Linked DNA regions of Homo sapiens: region 2 is linked to region 1. Evidence: fine-mapped expression QTL. Tissue or cell type: cerebral cortex. Region 1 holds a variant in brackets; the other region holds the start of a gene. All regions are shown on one strand. Distances are from middle to middle.

What was found. PIP is the estimated chance that this variant, and not a neighbour inherited with it, causes the effect.
Region 2: LASP1NB starts here. The variant in region 1 is fine-mapped to the expression of LASP1NB in cerebral cortex (GTEx, PIP 0.98).

The regions. Positions count from the first base shown.
Region 1 is chr17:39,077,013-39,085,113 of GRCh38, forward strand. PLXDC1 (plexin domain containing 1) reads right to left here. Exons shown (of 14, transcript NM_020405.5): 9 at 6,447-6,528; 10 at 2,092-2,152; 11 at 901-1,036. It also overlaps the pseudogene RDM1P5. Among named protein-coding and RNA genes, the nearest start is that of LINC02079, 54 kb to the left of the region's middle. RefSeq lists enhancers at 3,766-3,825, 4,006-4,075, 6,456-6,956. The variant G/C (reference allele first, on the strand shown) is at 3,567.
Region 2 is chr17:38,922,139-38,930,239 of GRCh38, forward strand. It overlaps LASP1NB (LASP1 neighbor), which reads left to right and starts at 3,476. Exons shown (of 2, transcript NM_001414697.1): 1 at 3,476-3,753; 2 at 4,279-7,243. The coding sequence starts at 3,556. The coding sequence ends at 3,633. RefSeq lists enhancers at 1-471, 7,555-8,100, 8,101.

The DNA.
Region 1 (8,101 bases):
GTGAGCCACCGCGCCCGGCCAATTTTTATATTTTTAGTGGAGACGGGGTTTCACCATGTTGGTCAGGCTGGTCTCAAACCCCTGACCTCAAGTGGTCTGCTCACCTCAGCCTCCCGAAGTGCTGGGATTACAGGTGTGAGCCACTGTGCCTGGCCGAGATGCAGGGTATTGAAAAAGGATAAGGGAGAGGAATGTCTCAGACATAGCTACAGAATCCTGGAGGGGGCATGGGAGAAAGGGAAGAGATTTGAGGCCTAGGACCGGAGGAGCCTGCACAAGGCTTCCTGGGACACCGCCTGGTGCATTCACGGGGATGGACCTCTGGCAGCTTCAACCAAGACCCCCAGGCCTCCAGGTAGCAGGGAAGCCCCTAGATTGCAAGACCTGAATAGTCAGGGTGGATGGACAGCTGAGGTGGAATTCCCCATCCATCACTCCAGGGCCTGAAAGTGAGAAGTCAGGTGATCATACAGAAAAACAAGGCAGCCTTTCTCTCACGCCTGAGTGTATGGACTGAGTTCATACCTGCTACAGGGATGAGCCTTTTCAGGTTCTGTGAGGACTGCTATTAAGATTAGCTGAGATAAGGTATATAAAATACCTGGCACTGGCCTGGGCTATTAATTTTTCCCCTCTTCACAGTGAATTGTCTGTAGCCCTGATGTGGGCCAGTACAGTGGTTAGAGCCCAGGAGTAGAGTTCAAGTTCTAAATCTGGCTCTGCTTCTCACCAGCAAGTGACCTAAACTGTCTGAACTTCAGGCCCCCTTAGCTATAAAAGGATGGGGCAGTTCCCATCCCATGAGATCATCCCTGTCAGGGACAGAGAGGGGGCCCCAGAGGGGTGGGTAGCTCTCCTTCCTGGCCTCCTCTCTGCTCCCCTCCTGGGCTCAGAACTTACCTTCTGTGGTGAGGCTGTCGATGAAGAGGGAGGAGGAGGTAGTGGTGAGGTCTCCATCATAGGGGCTGAAGGAAGTGTCAGGGGAGGCTGAGTCGTGGTCCTCATCCTGGAAGTCCTCGCACATCCTGCCCTCTGCCTGCAGGAGAGAGCCAGTGCTGTGTCTTGAATGCATTTACACCTTTCCCTTCATCCTGAAAGCATCTTCTCTTACAGGGCAATTTATCTGTCAGCTGCTTCAAATCCTTCCTCAAGGAAGGGGCTGAGATGCCAATCTTAAATAAATAGAGCAAATCTGAACGGTCACCAACAGCTAACTTCAAAAGTAGGCGGCTGGACAGGGTTTTTTTAAAGCCCAGACTCAGACTAATAAATAGACTGTGGTAAGTGTATGGCCACAGGGTCTGGAGAGTTGATATTTAAATGCTGGGCCCGTCACCTTCTAGCAGCGAGATGCAGGCCAATTCATTAAACTTCTCTGAGCCCCAGTTTTCCCCTGTGATCGATCAATGGGGGCAATGGCCCCCAGCTTTTGGTTCAGGTTAAATAAGAGCGAGGGTAGGGCAACTCACAGTGACATGCTTGGCACATGCAGCATGCTTGCTTTGCAAGAAGATATAAAGGGAGGGGGCAAAAAAGAGGGCACAGATGAATAGACCCATCTATGTTAGTCTATGGTGTGAGAATAGGATGCTTTCCACCTAGAATCAGTGTTGAGTGTACTGGAAAATTCTTGCAGTGAGAAGGAACCTGGATGGGATTCTAAAGAGGAGATGCCTGGAACCACCCTTCTCACTCCCAGAATGACTGCCTTCCTCAAAAGCCAGAGGACCAGAGGCTTAGCAGGTGCATCATTAAGGTCAGCAGGTGCACAGTCTCCCAGAGGAGCCAGCAGTGGCTGAGGCCATGCCCAACATCCCCTCTGCATGCACCAAAAGAATTCCTTGAGAGCTGCCCACTTAAGGTCAAGGCATCAGAATGCTCGTCTCAGAGACCCACAGAGCCCTCTGAAACCTTCCAAAGTGGGTCTGATTGGCTCAAGGCAGTCTGGAAAACAAATCTTAGATGGAAGGGAGGATATTGCCAAGAGCTAATGCCACCTTGAGAAGAGTTTCCAGGGGCAGGCCCTACTGGCTGCCCTCCTGTTCCCCACCACCTGGCACAGGAGTTGCAGCAGATACTTATGCTTCTCACCTCCTGTGCACAGCCATAGTCCATCCACTCCTGGCGATAGCGGTCAAAGCCACTGGAGCATCTGCAGGAGGACCAAAAGGACAGAGTTATGATGGGATTGACAAAGAAGCCTTCCCCTTTCACTGTTCAGTAACAGCTCTCTGCTGATAGTGAGAAGAGGAGCCAAGGTCCCCAGGCTGAGGTAGTCAGGCACTCCCATTCCCTCTACTTCCCCGGAAGATGAAGGTATTTGTGGCATCCCTGCCTTCCTTCCCACCCAGCTCCCCAGGACCAAGGCCACATCTGCCCATGTGAGTAGGTGTAGGGGCTAGCAGGACTGCATGAGCTCCAGTGATCCTCAAGGTCGCCTTGACTCTGAGCTGCCGTGACACTGCTGAGAATCCAGGCAATTCACATACGTGTTTTCATCCTGGTTGTTGAGGGACCTAAACTTGGGAAAGAGAGTAGGGCTAAAGGTAGGCCTCAGCAGACTTAGTCAACACCTCCCCATGTGATCATTCAAGGGCATTTCTGACGGTCCTGCCAGAGAGGCTGGGAGACAACTGGCTGACAAGGGTCTCCGGAGAGGGCATTGGACAGCTCAGCTGGGCTGGAAGACACCAAGCGCCCCTGTAGGGAAAGGATGGGGGCATGACGATGCACCAGAGAATGTTCTCCATGCATCATTCCCAACTTTTCGTTCTTTACTCTTTGGTGCTAGGGGAACCCACCAAGCCCTACTCAAGCCCAGGGATGTCTGCATGGGAAGAATAACATCATGAACCACCAGTGCCAAGAAGGAATTCTCAGCAGGTTAACTGCACCAGCACCCACTGAGGTTTGGTGAGGCCAAGGGCCAAGGCTTGCCAGGAGCTGTCAGTCTTTCCTTCTGCAGATGCCTCTGGGCTCTGAGCTGCTCCTCCTGCAGCAGGGATGGCTGAACTGAGCCAGCCACACTCTCCTTCTGTCAGGTCCTCTATGCCCACTACTTTGGGGGATGGAGGATTAGGAAGGCTATTGGAGGCTGAGAACTAAAGTTTCTTTTAGGGCTGGGTGTGGTGGCTCATGCCTGTAATCCCAGCGTTTTGAGAGGCTGAGGCAGGAGGATTGCTTGAGCCCAGGAATTTAAGGCTATAGTGAGCTATGATGGCACCACTGCACTCCAGCCTGGGTGACAGAGCAAGACCCTGTCTCTTAAAAAAAAAAAATAGTTTCTTTTAGACTGTGCTAACTGATTCTTTCAAAGATTGAGCCTTTGGTATGGGTTTATGACCCCCATTTCTGGAGCTAATCCTGGAATTAACATTACCCTTAGACTCCAGAGTGGGTCATGGCGGGGCGGGGGCAGGCAGGCATCTGCCGTGAGAGACGAAATTGTTTAAATCCATTCCAGCCCAAGAGCAAGGAGAAAAGCTCTGGGAGGCTGTGAAAGGCAAAGTGGGTGGAGGGGAGGGGAGCAGAGAACCATGCAGGGACTGACTGCAGCTGTTGGCAGA[G/C]AGACCATGTCAGCTGGCCCTGCCCTCCGGGTTTTTAGGGACCTAGGTTCAGCTCTCAGTTGCAGCTGAGGCTCCAGAGAGCTTGTAAGAAGGGACAATGTGCAGGAGTGAGCCCAGGCCCATGGGGCGCCTGGGGATGGGATGATTTTCAGCCTGCACCAGCCATGCTCCCCCAGGTGGAGTTTCTCTGTGCTCCTCTTTGCTGACACAACTCCTGCAGATGCACACAGTCAGAGGCCTTGCCCTTCCCCCAGCCTGACCAACCTCCTAATGTTGAGGAGGGCTCAACCCTCATTTAACTCATAGTCTCTGAATTTGGGCATATGCTTTAAATGGGGGTTGTGTTGATGGGAGAGTTTGGCTGTCATCTGACCCATTTTGCAGTTCTCATGGCTCAGCGCTTGTGAAAGCTGAGTCATGTGGTGGCAGCCAGCCCCAGGATCCCAGGGCTCATCTGAGGCCATCTCTCCATTGCTTAGACCATGGTTCTCAAATTTGAAAGTACACAAGAGGGACCACTTCAAAAATCAGATTTCTGGGATCCTGGTTCCAGAGGATCATATTCAGTGGGATGGGGCCCAGGAATCTGCATTTTACAAGCCCTCCAGGTATAAGGAGAGCCTCACAGTCTGCAGACTATTCTGCAACGCTCTGCTCCAGGAAGAACCAACCTGGGGTCTATCCTACATATTCTTTCTGAGGCTCTGTGAGTCTCATGCGAAGGATGCTGAATGCTTTGTAAAAATGCTTCTTGCGGCTGGGCGTGGTGGCTCACGCCTGTAATCCCAGTACTTTGGGAGGCCGAGGCGGGCGGATCATGAGGTCAGGAGATCGAGACTGTCCTGGCTAACACGGTGAAACCTCATCTCTACTAAAAAAAAAAAAAAAAATACAAAAAATTAGCCAGGCGTGGTTGCAGGCGCCTGTAGTCCCAGCTACTCGGGAGGCTTAGGCAGGAGAATGGCCAGAACCCGGGAGGCGGAGCTTGCAGTGAACCGAGATCGCGCCACTGCACTCCAGCCTGGGTGACAGAGCGAGACTCCGTCTCAAAAAAAAAAAAAATGCTTCTTGATATCTTGATAGCCTGGGTGCAGTGGCTCACACCTGTAATCCCAGCATTTTGGGAGGCCGAGGAGGGCAGATCACTTGAACCCAGGAGTTCAAGACCAGCTTGGCCAACAAAGTGAGACCCCATCTCTACAAAATATTAGAAAAATGGCCGGGTGTGGTGGTGTGCACCTGTGGTTTCAACTACAGGGGGGACTGAGGCAGGAGGATTGCTTGAGCCAGGAGGTTGAGGCCACAGTGAGCTGTGATTGCACCACTGCACCCCAGCCTGGATGACAGAGCAAGACCCTGTCTCAAAACAAAACAAAAACTGCTTGAGGAGTTTAAATAACAGTGTGTTTGTTCCCACATCTTCCTGAATCACATGACCCCAGCCCATTTTACAGGGTAAACAATCTGAGGCCCCAAGAGAGTGAATAAAAGCACAGCTGGTGGGAAGAACACCTGGGAGACCTGATGGGCACACCCCATCCCCTCTGGGCCCAGAGCTGTGTCCTGTGTGCTAGGCAGGCTGCCTATAAAGGCGAGAACTTCTACATTTGCAGCAGGATATTGGAAAGGAGCAAAGGAATCCTGGAATTAATGTTACTCTTAGACTCCAGAGTGGGCCATGGTGCAGAGGCAAAGGAAATCACTGGGGCCGGGGCAGTGGCTCACGCCTTTGGGAAGGCCGAGATAGATGGATTACCTGAGGTCAAGAGTTTGAGACAAGCCTGGCCAAACTCTTGGTTTGGTGAAACCCCATCTCTACTAGAAAAATACAAAAAAATTAGCTGGGTGTGGTGGTGTGTGCCTGTAATCCTAGCTACTCAAGAGGCTGAGGCAGGAGAATCGCTTGAACTCAGGAGGTAAAGGTTGCAGTGAGCCAAGATCACACCATTGTACTCCAGCCTGGGCAACAAGAGCAAAACTCTCTCAAAAAAAAAAAAAGCACTGGAAAGGAGCATTGGAAAGGAGCAGCACGACAGCTGCACAGGAACTCAGAGACTATAATTTAGCAATTTTCAAGATTGCCTTAAAAGCCCTTGGAGTTCATAGGACTTCCCACTCTCATGAGAACTCTAGTCCCCAAGGAAATCTTTTTCTTCCCCCTCCTCCTGTCATTTATTTATCTTGGACAGGGAACAGAGCTTGAATGCTGAGTCTAATCTGTGAGGAAATGATTTCAGAACAAGGAGTGGAAGAGGAGATGGATTTAAGAACATTATCACTGAAACTGAATCTCACCCAGAATTTTCTGAGCTTCTAAAAGCAAGCAAACACAGCTTTTTAGCTCTCCCAACTTTCCATGGATGCCTGTAGTCCACACCCCTGGTCTTCAGAAAAATCCCTTGCAGCCCAAGAAAGATCTTGAGGTGGTGTTTTGGGGTCATGGGTCTTTGGACCAGACTTTGTCTCTGAACTGGCAGTTCTCACACTTGTTTGCAGATGAAGCATGATGTTAAAATGCAGCTTCCTGGGTTCTCTCCCAGAGATCCTGATACAGAGGGTCTGGGATGGGTCCCAGGAATCCAGTGTGTTTAACTGGAGCCCAGGGTCTAATGCCCACAGCTGTGGAACACTCCGAGAAGCCCTGTTCCAGGATGAACCCTCTCCTCCTGGGTGTGAGGAGGGAGCCTGAGTAGCTGGAATCCCTAAATGGTCTTCCAGAAGCCCCCAGGCCATGTTCTTGTCCCAAGAGTCAGAGTGGTACTGGCCAGAGATACTCTCATGTTGGCTGACTGTGGGCAGTGAGGCCAGGACGGGGCCATGCCACCCTCTTCCCCTCCACAGTCGGCCAGTGGGAGTCAGCAGGTAACCCTGGGCACAAACCTCTGGAGGACATGGCACCAGCTGCAGTTGAAGGTCAGGTCTGAGGACATGCAGGCGTCACAGCTCCTATGCTGCAGGCAGGCTGCAAGAGAGAAGGCAGTGGCCGCTCAGCACCGAGCCTCTCCTTGGGCTCCAAAGGGTGCAACTCTGAATTCCTGGTATTTACAGAACTATGGAGCCCCTGACTTTGAGGAGACCTTTAAGGTCATTAATGCCACCTCCCTTGGTCCAGTCTAGCCCCAATTCCTAACTTCTTTTTTTAAGGGATGAGGTCTCGCTGTGTTGCCCAGGTTGGTGTGTGATGACCTGATCATGGCTCACTATAGCCTCGAACTTCTGGGTTCAAGTGATCCTCCTGCCTCAGCCTCCCCACCATCTCTTCCTCCCTCCCTACCTACCTTCCTTTTTTCCTTCTTCTGTCCCTCACTCCCTTGTTCCCTGCCTCCCTCGCTTCCTCCCTCCCTAGCTTCCTTCCTTCTCACTAGAAGGTCAGGCCCTAAACTGGGTGCTGGGGATTCAGCAGTGAGACCTAGTCCCTGCCTTCTTAGGGCTTAGACTCATATGGGGACACAGACACTAAACAGATAATCAAAAATCACTACAGAATTAGAACTGTCACGAGGTCTATGACGGCAAATCACAAGGTGCTGTAAGTGTGTACAAAGGAATCTCACCTAGTCGGAGACATTATACTTTCAGGTGTGTATCCCACAGTCAAAGGGTTGAAAGGGATTTTTTAAAGGTCAGAGCATACAAAGTAGCAGGTATGTAGGATGAACAAGGCTAGAATCTACTGTATAACATGAGGACTGTAGGTAATAAAATTGTACTGTATGTGGAGTTCATGCTAAATGAGTAGATTTTAGCTGCTCTTGCCACAAGAACAAAAAATCTAAGGGAACTGTGAGATGATGGATATGTTAACTGCTTCATCATGGTAACCATCTCACTGTCTATATGCATCCCATAGCATCATGCTGTATACCTGAAATATGTACAATAAAAGTTATTGTTTTAAAAGATGCTCTGGTTGCCCCCAGTGCTTGTTGGGGGCACTCACTGCCCACTCCTGATGTTCGGTCCATGGGGAGAAAACAGCTCTCCTGGGAGAGAAGAAGTCAAGGCAGAAAGGTCCCATGTGCAGAGCCGAGAGGGGAACGGCCCAGACGTGATCCCAGCAGCAGCCAGAACTGCTACCAGGCTGCACAGAGTGAAGGGGCTGGAATTAGTACGAATGAAGAGGGAGCGACAGCTGGGGCCCAGCCTGGGCAGGACAGAGCCAGAGAACAGAGAGATTAGTGGGACCAGGTTGCTGGAGGGCGCGTGAACCCTTCTGGCACAGGCCAGGCACAGGAGCAGCAGGGCAGGGGGCGCAGTAGGCACGGGGGCTGGATTTAAGAGCTGTTCACTTGCAATCCAGTGCTACTCACTTGAATGAACCAGATGACCTCTGAGCGGCAAGTAGCTGTCACAAAGCCCGTATATTTGATTGCAAAGAGAGACAGGCACTCACCCAGAACAACTGTGTGCAGAAGGGCTTATCTTATAAGCAACAGAACAGAACACCTTGATAGCCACAAGAAGTGACAACTAACAACAGAAAAATGACCACTCATTTGATCAACATTGCATGTGTTTCTTCCTGTGTGAATTCT
Region 2 (8,101 bases), 150 kb before region 1:
ATTACTGTGTCACTTCCTCAGTGACATATCTGTCTCCCCACTAGCCAGAGCCCTTGGGGCAGGTGATGAGTCTAATTCATCTCTAAATCCCGGGTACCTGCCCAGGAGCGGTGCGGAGCTGTTGAATTAATGAATGAGCTTGGCTGGGGAGCAGTTCTAGCACTCTGCCGCTGCCAGGCAGAGAGCAGGAGCTCCACGCATTTGAGGAACGAGATGACAGGGCATTCCACAGTGGGACGGGACCTGGATAAAGCTGTCTGTAAGGTGGCCTGGCAACCCAAAGCACTATTCACAGTGCCTTCTGAATGTAATCTTTAATACACATCCCCTTTCTTCCTTCTTCCTCACAACCCTGTGAGAGAAGTAACTACTTATAGAGGGGCTCACTGAAACCCAGAAAGGCAAAGCAGATTGGTGGCAGTCACAGCTAGTGGCAGAGTGGGGCCTGAGACCCCCATGTGATGCTCACAGTCTGGTGCTGTGCCACCCGGCCATGGCAGGCCGCGTGCCTGTGTCTGTGGCAGCTCTTAGATGTGTGTCTCCTGGGCTCCATGTTTTGCTCCAGGTGCCCAGGGTCTGTGACTGGCCAGAAGGCCAGGCGGCCTCCCCTCTTGCTCATTGGGCTTGGGAAGAGGACAGTGGTAGAGAGGGGAATCTGGCCCTGCTCAGTGCTGCCAATCAGCCTCAGGTCCAGCTGCTTGAGGGGCATTTCTCTCTTGGGGCTCAGAACTAAGGAATTCTCCAGCCTCAGAATCACAGCAGGGTGGAGAGGAGGAGGGCTCTCCTGAGCTGAGCATTTGTAATCTGGAGAATGACATGGCCAGAGTCAGCTGAGCTGGGGCAATGTGGGGAGCATCCAAGGCTGCCCTGGGTGGTATAATTAGAGACAGCACTGACACCTGCTCCCCTCCAGGGGTGCAGGCAGCCCAATACTTTCCCAATAGAAGGGAATTAGTTGGCAAAGCTTGCCTCATGTCGGCCTGCCCCACTCCCCGGGAGGCTTCATTCACCTTCAGATCTATTTGATGGAACAGTGCTTTGGGGGACATTGCTGCCAAGTCTCCACTCCCTGCTCACAGAAAGCTCTGCCTCCTGGAAATGGGCCAATGGGAGGAGTTTCTGGATTTCCTTCTGGCAGTGGCCTAAGTTCCTGAGGTCTTGCATTATGAGGGGGTTACCAATATATCTTAACCCCAGGCCTTTAAAAAAAATATTATTTGGGGTGGGGGCCAAGGAGACTAGGCCTCAGAGACGTCCTAGGGAATGATTTAATTTAATAGAAAATAATTGAGGCTTATAAAAAGGCACAAAAATCCTGGCTAACACAGTGAAACCCCGTCTATACTAAAAATACAAAAAATAAGCTGGGCGCGGTGGCGGGTGCCTGTAGTCCCAGCTACTCGGGAGGCTGAGGCAGGAGAATGGCGTGAACCCGGGAGGCAGAGCTTGCACTGAGCTGAGATCGTGCCACTGCACTCCAGCCTGGGTGACAGAGCAAGACTCCGTCTAAGAATAAATAAATAAATAAATAAATAAATAAATAAATAAATAAATAAAAAGAATAAAATAATTCTCTTTTCCCCCTCAGAAGAAACCACTTGAATTTTTTAAATTTCAGGGATACCCCTGGGGAATTCTTCAGTGTCCTCTCTGTGTACAACACTATGCTGAGCTTTTGGAAGAGGATACCAAAGAAAACAAAACTAGGCCGGGTGCGGTGGTTCACACCTGCAATCCCAGCACTTTGGGAGGCTGAGGTGGGAGGATCGCTTGAGTCCAGGAGTTTGAGACCAGCCTGGGCAAAATGGCAAGACCCCGTCTCTATAAAAAAAGAAAGAAGGAAAACAAAACAGTGGGTAATGACTGCAAAGAGACGAAGGAGTGGGTGGAGGAGGGGTCTCTGGTGCTCGTCCTGTAGGTGGATCGATGTGAAAGCAGTCCACTGCAAGCTGAGCAGTGCACGTGGGGTGTAGGGGCCTTCCGGACCAACAGGGGGAGCAGTGTGGCGCAAGAGGAAGAATATGGACTTTGGTGTCAGCATGCCTAGTTTTGAATCCTGGTCTCTGACATTTTTAATTAATTAATTAATTATTTTGAGACGGAGTTTCACTCTTGTTGCCCAGGCTGGAGTGCAATGGCACAATCTCAGCTCACTGCAACCTCCACCTCCCAGGTTCAAGCGATTCTCCTGCCTCAGCCTCCTGAGTAGCTGGGATTACAGGCATGTGCCACCATGCCCAGCTAATTTTGTATTTTTAGTAGAGCTGGAGTTTCTCCATGTTGGTCAGGCTGGTCTTGAACTCCTGACCTCAGGTGATTCACCTACCTCAGCCTCCCAAAGTGTTGGGATTACAGGCATGAGCCACCACACCCAGCCTTTTACTTTTTATTTTATTTATTAATTTATTTATTTTTGAGACGGAGTCTCGCTCTGTCACCCAGGCTGGAGTGCAATGGCACGGTCTCAGCTCACTGCGACCTCTGCCTGCCGGGTTCAAGCAATTCTTTAGCCTCAGCCTCTTGAATAGCTGGGATAACAGGCACCTGCCACCACGCCCGGCTAATTTTTATTTTTATTTTTTTTTTGAGACAGAATCTTGCTCTGTAGCCCAGGCTGGGGTGCAGTGGCGCGATCTCAGCTCTGCCTCCCGGGTTCAAGCAATTCTCTGCCTCAGCCTCCCAAGTAGCTGGGATTACAGGCATGCACCACCAAGCCTGGCTAACTTTTGTATTTTTAGTAGAGACAGGGTTTCACCATCTTGGCCAGGCTGGTCTTGAACTCCTGACCTTGTGATCCACCTGCCTCGGCCTCCCAAAGTGCTGGGATTATAGGCATGAGCCACTGCGCCCGGCTGGTCTCTGACACATCTAAGCTATGAACCATTAGGGTAAGTTTCTGACCATCTCTGAGCCCCATCTATGAAAGACTCATAGGGAGGTTGAAATTGCACCACATGTACGATATCTGGCCCAGTGTAGGAAATGTATAAATGTTAGCTTCATCCCTCAGGGAAGCCCACTGAGATCCACACGAAACTTTTGTCTGTGTCTCCCCATAATGTGACCTTTAGAAGTTGCCAATGGCCCACCCAATACCCAACCATGATTTTTCTGAGATAATCTGCCCGAGGTGTGTGAGAGGAAACGCGAAGAAGGCAGTCAGGAGGATTCACTCTTGGGGGAGCTGGGTAGGATCCTATCTCCTCCTACATCCAGAGCATGCAGGCTCCATTTAGATACAAAGGGGTGGGATTGGGTTCCTGGGGAGAAATTGAGCCCCTTTGATTCTGCGGTTCTGTGGGTCTAAATCTGGCATCTCCTTGGCTATCCACCCCCAGGCTTTGTGATTGGTTGGCTGTGGTTGGTGGGGGGGCAGGAAGCTGCTGGTGGAGCTGCAGCATCCTTCAGTCTCAGGCCCCTGGGAGGGGGAGGGGAAAGAACCAGGGCTGAGCTGTGGAGTGAAGGGGAGCCATTTCTCTCCACCGACTGCAACCTCCGTGCTCACAGCTCACGGTTCACCAGAATCCAGGGGCTTGGTCGGCCTAGGAATCCACAATGCTGGATATTTTCATCCTGATGTTCTTTGCCATCATAGGCCTGGTCATTCTGTCCTACATTATCTATCTGCTCTAGTGGCCTGGAGCTGCGGCCGGAGCCTGCTGGAGAACAGCTCAGAAGGAAGGATGGAGATGAATGGCCGAGTGCCCTGCTTGCTGACGCACCGGTGGATTTTTGCTTCTGCTGTTATCTCGGGTATTGATTCCAAAAAAAAAAGAAAAGAAAAAAAGAAAGAGTTTGCTTTCCTATTTTTTTTCTTAGACCACTCTGAAAAGAATAAGAAATGCCAGCTTCTTTCTTTGGGACCTAATTTAAAATAAGACTTTAAAAATTACAAATAAAATCCACAATGTAAACGATTTTTAGGCAGAACGGGTTGGGAATGATGGATGTGGTGGGGAGGGACTATTATTTCCTAATTTCTTCTTCAAGTTAGGTGCTCAAACTCAAGTTGTCTATTTTCTTCTGGTAATTAAAGGTAAAACACATCTTTGCATGTCAGCATACTTGCAATATAGTTGTTTACAACTATGCTTGTATAATTGCATTACTTAATGATTGACTCATTCTTATTTGAGGGTGAGACGGCAAATAAATTTTACTTGGGGTGGGGTTTTCGGGGAGATGTCCAACTGTGGGATATGGTGGAGAGGAGGGAGGAACTCCTGGTACTTTGCAGTTGTCCCCATCTGAGACTTTTTATTTCTGGGTTTCTTACAGCTCCTGGTCTCTCCAGTCCAACAAGAGGCCTCTCATCCACAGAAGCAGTCCTACTGCCCAGCAGACCTCTTTCAGAGCCTTCCAGACATGGCTGACCCCTGGCAAGCAAGGGGCTTTTTGAGCTGAGAGGCACTTGGCTGGGACTTCAGGAATTCATGGACAGGGCTGGCAGATACTGCATATGTTTGAGCTGTAGATGGGATTGAGAACAGAAAGTTGAAATGGAGACTTATTAAAGTTACCGTGGAGAACTGCTCAAAAATTCATTTTGAATTAAGGAAACTTAAATTCATTTTAAGTTTCCTTAGATCTAAATGCAACTGCACATTACACTCAAATATGTTCCTTCCTTCTCACACACAGGACTCCCTTGTGAAACTCAAGGGGAAGTTCAAGTTGTCCATCTTCATCTATGAAGTAGTCACTTTATCACTGTCTTTACAGATTGCACAGTCTGGGGTTTTGTGGTTTCTCTTGTCTCACTCTCCAGCCAGGAAGAACTTGTCATTTGAGTTTTTAAAATGTATCATTTCTTCCCCACCTCAAACCACTTGTATCCCAGTTTCTCATTTAAAGGGAGAAATGGTTATATAGTCCTCTCTTTGCACCTGATTGAATTATAAATGATAGAAACAAGATGGCTATACTTATTTAGGAAAAATCTCTTACCCCAAAATGAGTGTGTGTGTGTGTGTGTGTGTGCGTGTGTGTGTGTGTGTGTGTTTTAATCAAAGATCTTTTCTGGAAAAAACTTTCCACATAGTTCTCTGACCCATTAGAGTTGAAGAAACTATGTATTTTGGGATTCAGAGTAGAATTGGCCTGCAAATCTGGGGTGTTTATTCCTTTTACAAGTCTATCATAATTGTTCTACATTTAATTTTCCTTTCTTGCTTAAAAGTAAACAAGGAGAGTCAGGAGTGGTGGCTCATGCCTGTAATCCCAGCACTCTGGGAGGCCGAGGCGGATGGATCACCTGAGGTCAGGAGTTGGAGACCAGCCTGGCCAACACGGTGAAACCCCGTCTCTACTAAAAATACAAAAATTAGTCAGGCACAGTAGTGCGCGCCTGTAGTCCCAGCTACCCGGGAGGCTGAGGCCGAAGAATTGCTTGAACCCGGGAGGCAGAGGTTGTAGTGAGCCGACATCATGTCACTGCACTCCAGCCTGGGAGACATAGCGAGATTCCGTCTCAAATAAAATAAAATAAATAAATAAATAAACAAGGAGAAAGATTAGTTTTTAGTAATAACATTGTGTCCAATTTCCATGTTTTAAAACAAAAATTGAGGCATTATATGTCACAACTGAAATGGAAAAGTTGTGTTTAAAAATTATGGACAAGGCCGGGCACGGTGGCTCACGCCTGGAATCCCAGCACTTTGGGAGGCTCAGGCAGGAGGATCACTTGAGGTCGGGAGTTTGAGACCAGTCTGACCAACGTGGTGAAACCCTGTCTCTACTAAAAATACAAAAATTAGCTGGTGTGGTGGCAGGTGCCTGTAATCCCAGCTACTCAGGAGGCTGAGGCAGGAGAATCGCTTGAACCTGGGAGGCAGAGGTTGCAGTGAGCCGAGATCACACCTCTGCACTCCAGCCTAGGTGACACAGCAAGACCCCATCTCAAAAAAAAATAATAATAAAAACATAAAAATTATGGACAAGAAAAAACACTATTCTGGAAGCTTTGTTTTGGCAACAAATTATATGACCTGACCTTTCATAAGTCATTTAAACTTTAGGGCTAGGCCAGGTGCTATGGCGCATGCCTATAATCCCAGCATTTAGGGAAGTAGAAGCAGGAGGATAGCTTGAGGCCAAGAATTCCAGACCAGCCCAGGCAATATAGCGAGACCCCCGTCTCCACAAAAATAAAAAATAAAATAAAAATAAATAAATACATAAACTTTAGGTCCTCTGTTTATTCTGTCAAATGAAAGTGTTAGGCCAAGGTCGCATTATCTCTTTGGAAACTACATCGAGAACAGAATTCCCATGGAACGAACTCTTAATAGTTCACTGGTAGTCCCCCTTTTCTGAATATTCTTCCCAACATGACACTTTATAACAAAAATTTAACTGCAAAACTCTTTTTTTTTCACCAACAGCCAGATTTTGATGAGAAAATGGCCATATTTATTTACTCCAAATATATATTATGTCTGTGATAATTTGCCTAAACTGTTTAAGGAATATTAACAAGTATGATACTGCATCGTGGTATGTAGCAAAAAGATAGGTAATCTGACATACATGGATGCAAGCAGCATGGCTGTGAACCTGGATATATTTAGAAATGATCTTCAGTGGAGTCCTTGATGTGACATTTTCCACTAAAACATTCTTCTAACTCTGGTATATCTTAGTGTTTCGAACTATAATTTCCGTCTTCAAGCCAAGACAGCAGCTCTACATCCTTACCTAGGTAATTCAGGCATGCGCCAGTATTTTGGAGGGGTCCAAATTAGAGTTAGTTATGATGGTATAGATCTTTAAAGTATAGTCTAACCAAGCTTGCTCTGGTCTTTTGTGACATCAAGGCTTCTCAGTCTGTATTCACATAAAGTTGAAACAACTAATCAATTCAGTGAAAAAAAATCAGCAGATTTCACTCATACACTGGTGATATATACCACTGGTATTGGGTACAATGTAAGGAGAGAGGATTACCCATCTCTTCAGTTACTTGTAAAATATGATTTTAAAAAAATAAATCAATACATTTTGGAAAAATTATATGACTTTGTGCTTATATTTATGCAACAATATGCTAGCTTATAACAGGGTTTTACTGTGTTATTTTGATAGTTGTTTAAATTTTACATTTAAACTATTTGTATTTTGGCATCCCAAAACATAATAAAACACTGCAAAAAGTTACCTCTGTAATATAAGATTTTGTATAAATTTTATAAATTTGTGTCATAGGGTAATTTTGTCCAATAAAATGTCAATGAGATAAAAACCACTCTGAAGAATTATAAATTACTTAGAAAAAAATCAAGTGACAATGCTAAGAATCATTACACTAATACCTGCTTTCTTGATGAAAACAGGGGGTTTGTGGGGAAGAATGATGTATTTTATTTATTTTATTTTTTGGTTTTTGAGACAGAGTTTCGCTCTTGTCACCCAGGCTGGAGTGCAATGGCACAATCTTGGCTCACTGCAACCTCCGCCTCCTGGGTTCAAGCGATTCTCCTGCCTCAGCCTTCCGAGTGGCTGGGAGCACAGGTGTGCATCCCCATGCCTGGCTAATTTTTGTATTTTTTAAAGTAGAGACAGGTTTTCATCATGTTGGCCAGGTTGGTTTGGAACTCCTGACCTCAGGCTATCTGCCTGCCTCAGCCTCCCAAAGTGCTGGGATTACAGGTGTGAGCCACCGTGCCTGGCCAAAATATCATTTTGATTTTAAATTACTCAAAAATAATGGGACTTTTCCTTAGGCATCGAAGTACAACTGAAGTGGAAAATTGTCTTTGTAAATTACATGCTTTGGCTTTATCAAACTATAGATATTTTCAAAGCCTAGAGTGGCCTCTTCTTTTTTTTTTGTTTTCTTTTATTATTATTATTATTTTTTTTTTTATTTTTTATTTTTTATTTTTTATTGATCATTCTTGGGTGTTTCTCGCAGAGGGGGATTTGGCAGGGTCATAGGACAATAGTGGAGGGAAGGTCAGCAGATAAACAAGTGAACAAAGGTCTCTGGTTTTCCTAGGCAGAGGACCCTGCGGCCTTCCGCAGTGTTTGTGTCCCTGGGTACTTGAGATTAGGGAGTGGTGATGACTCTTAACGAGCATGCTGCCTTCAAGCATCTGTT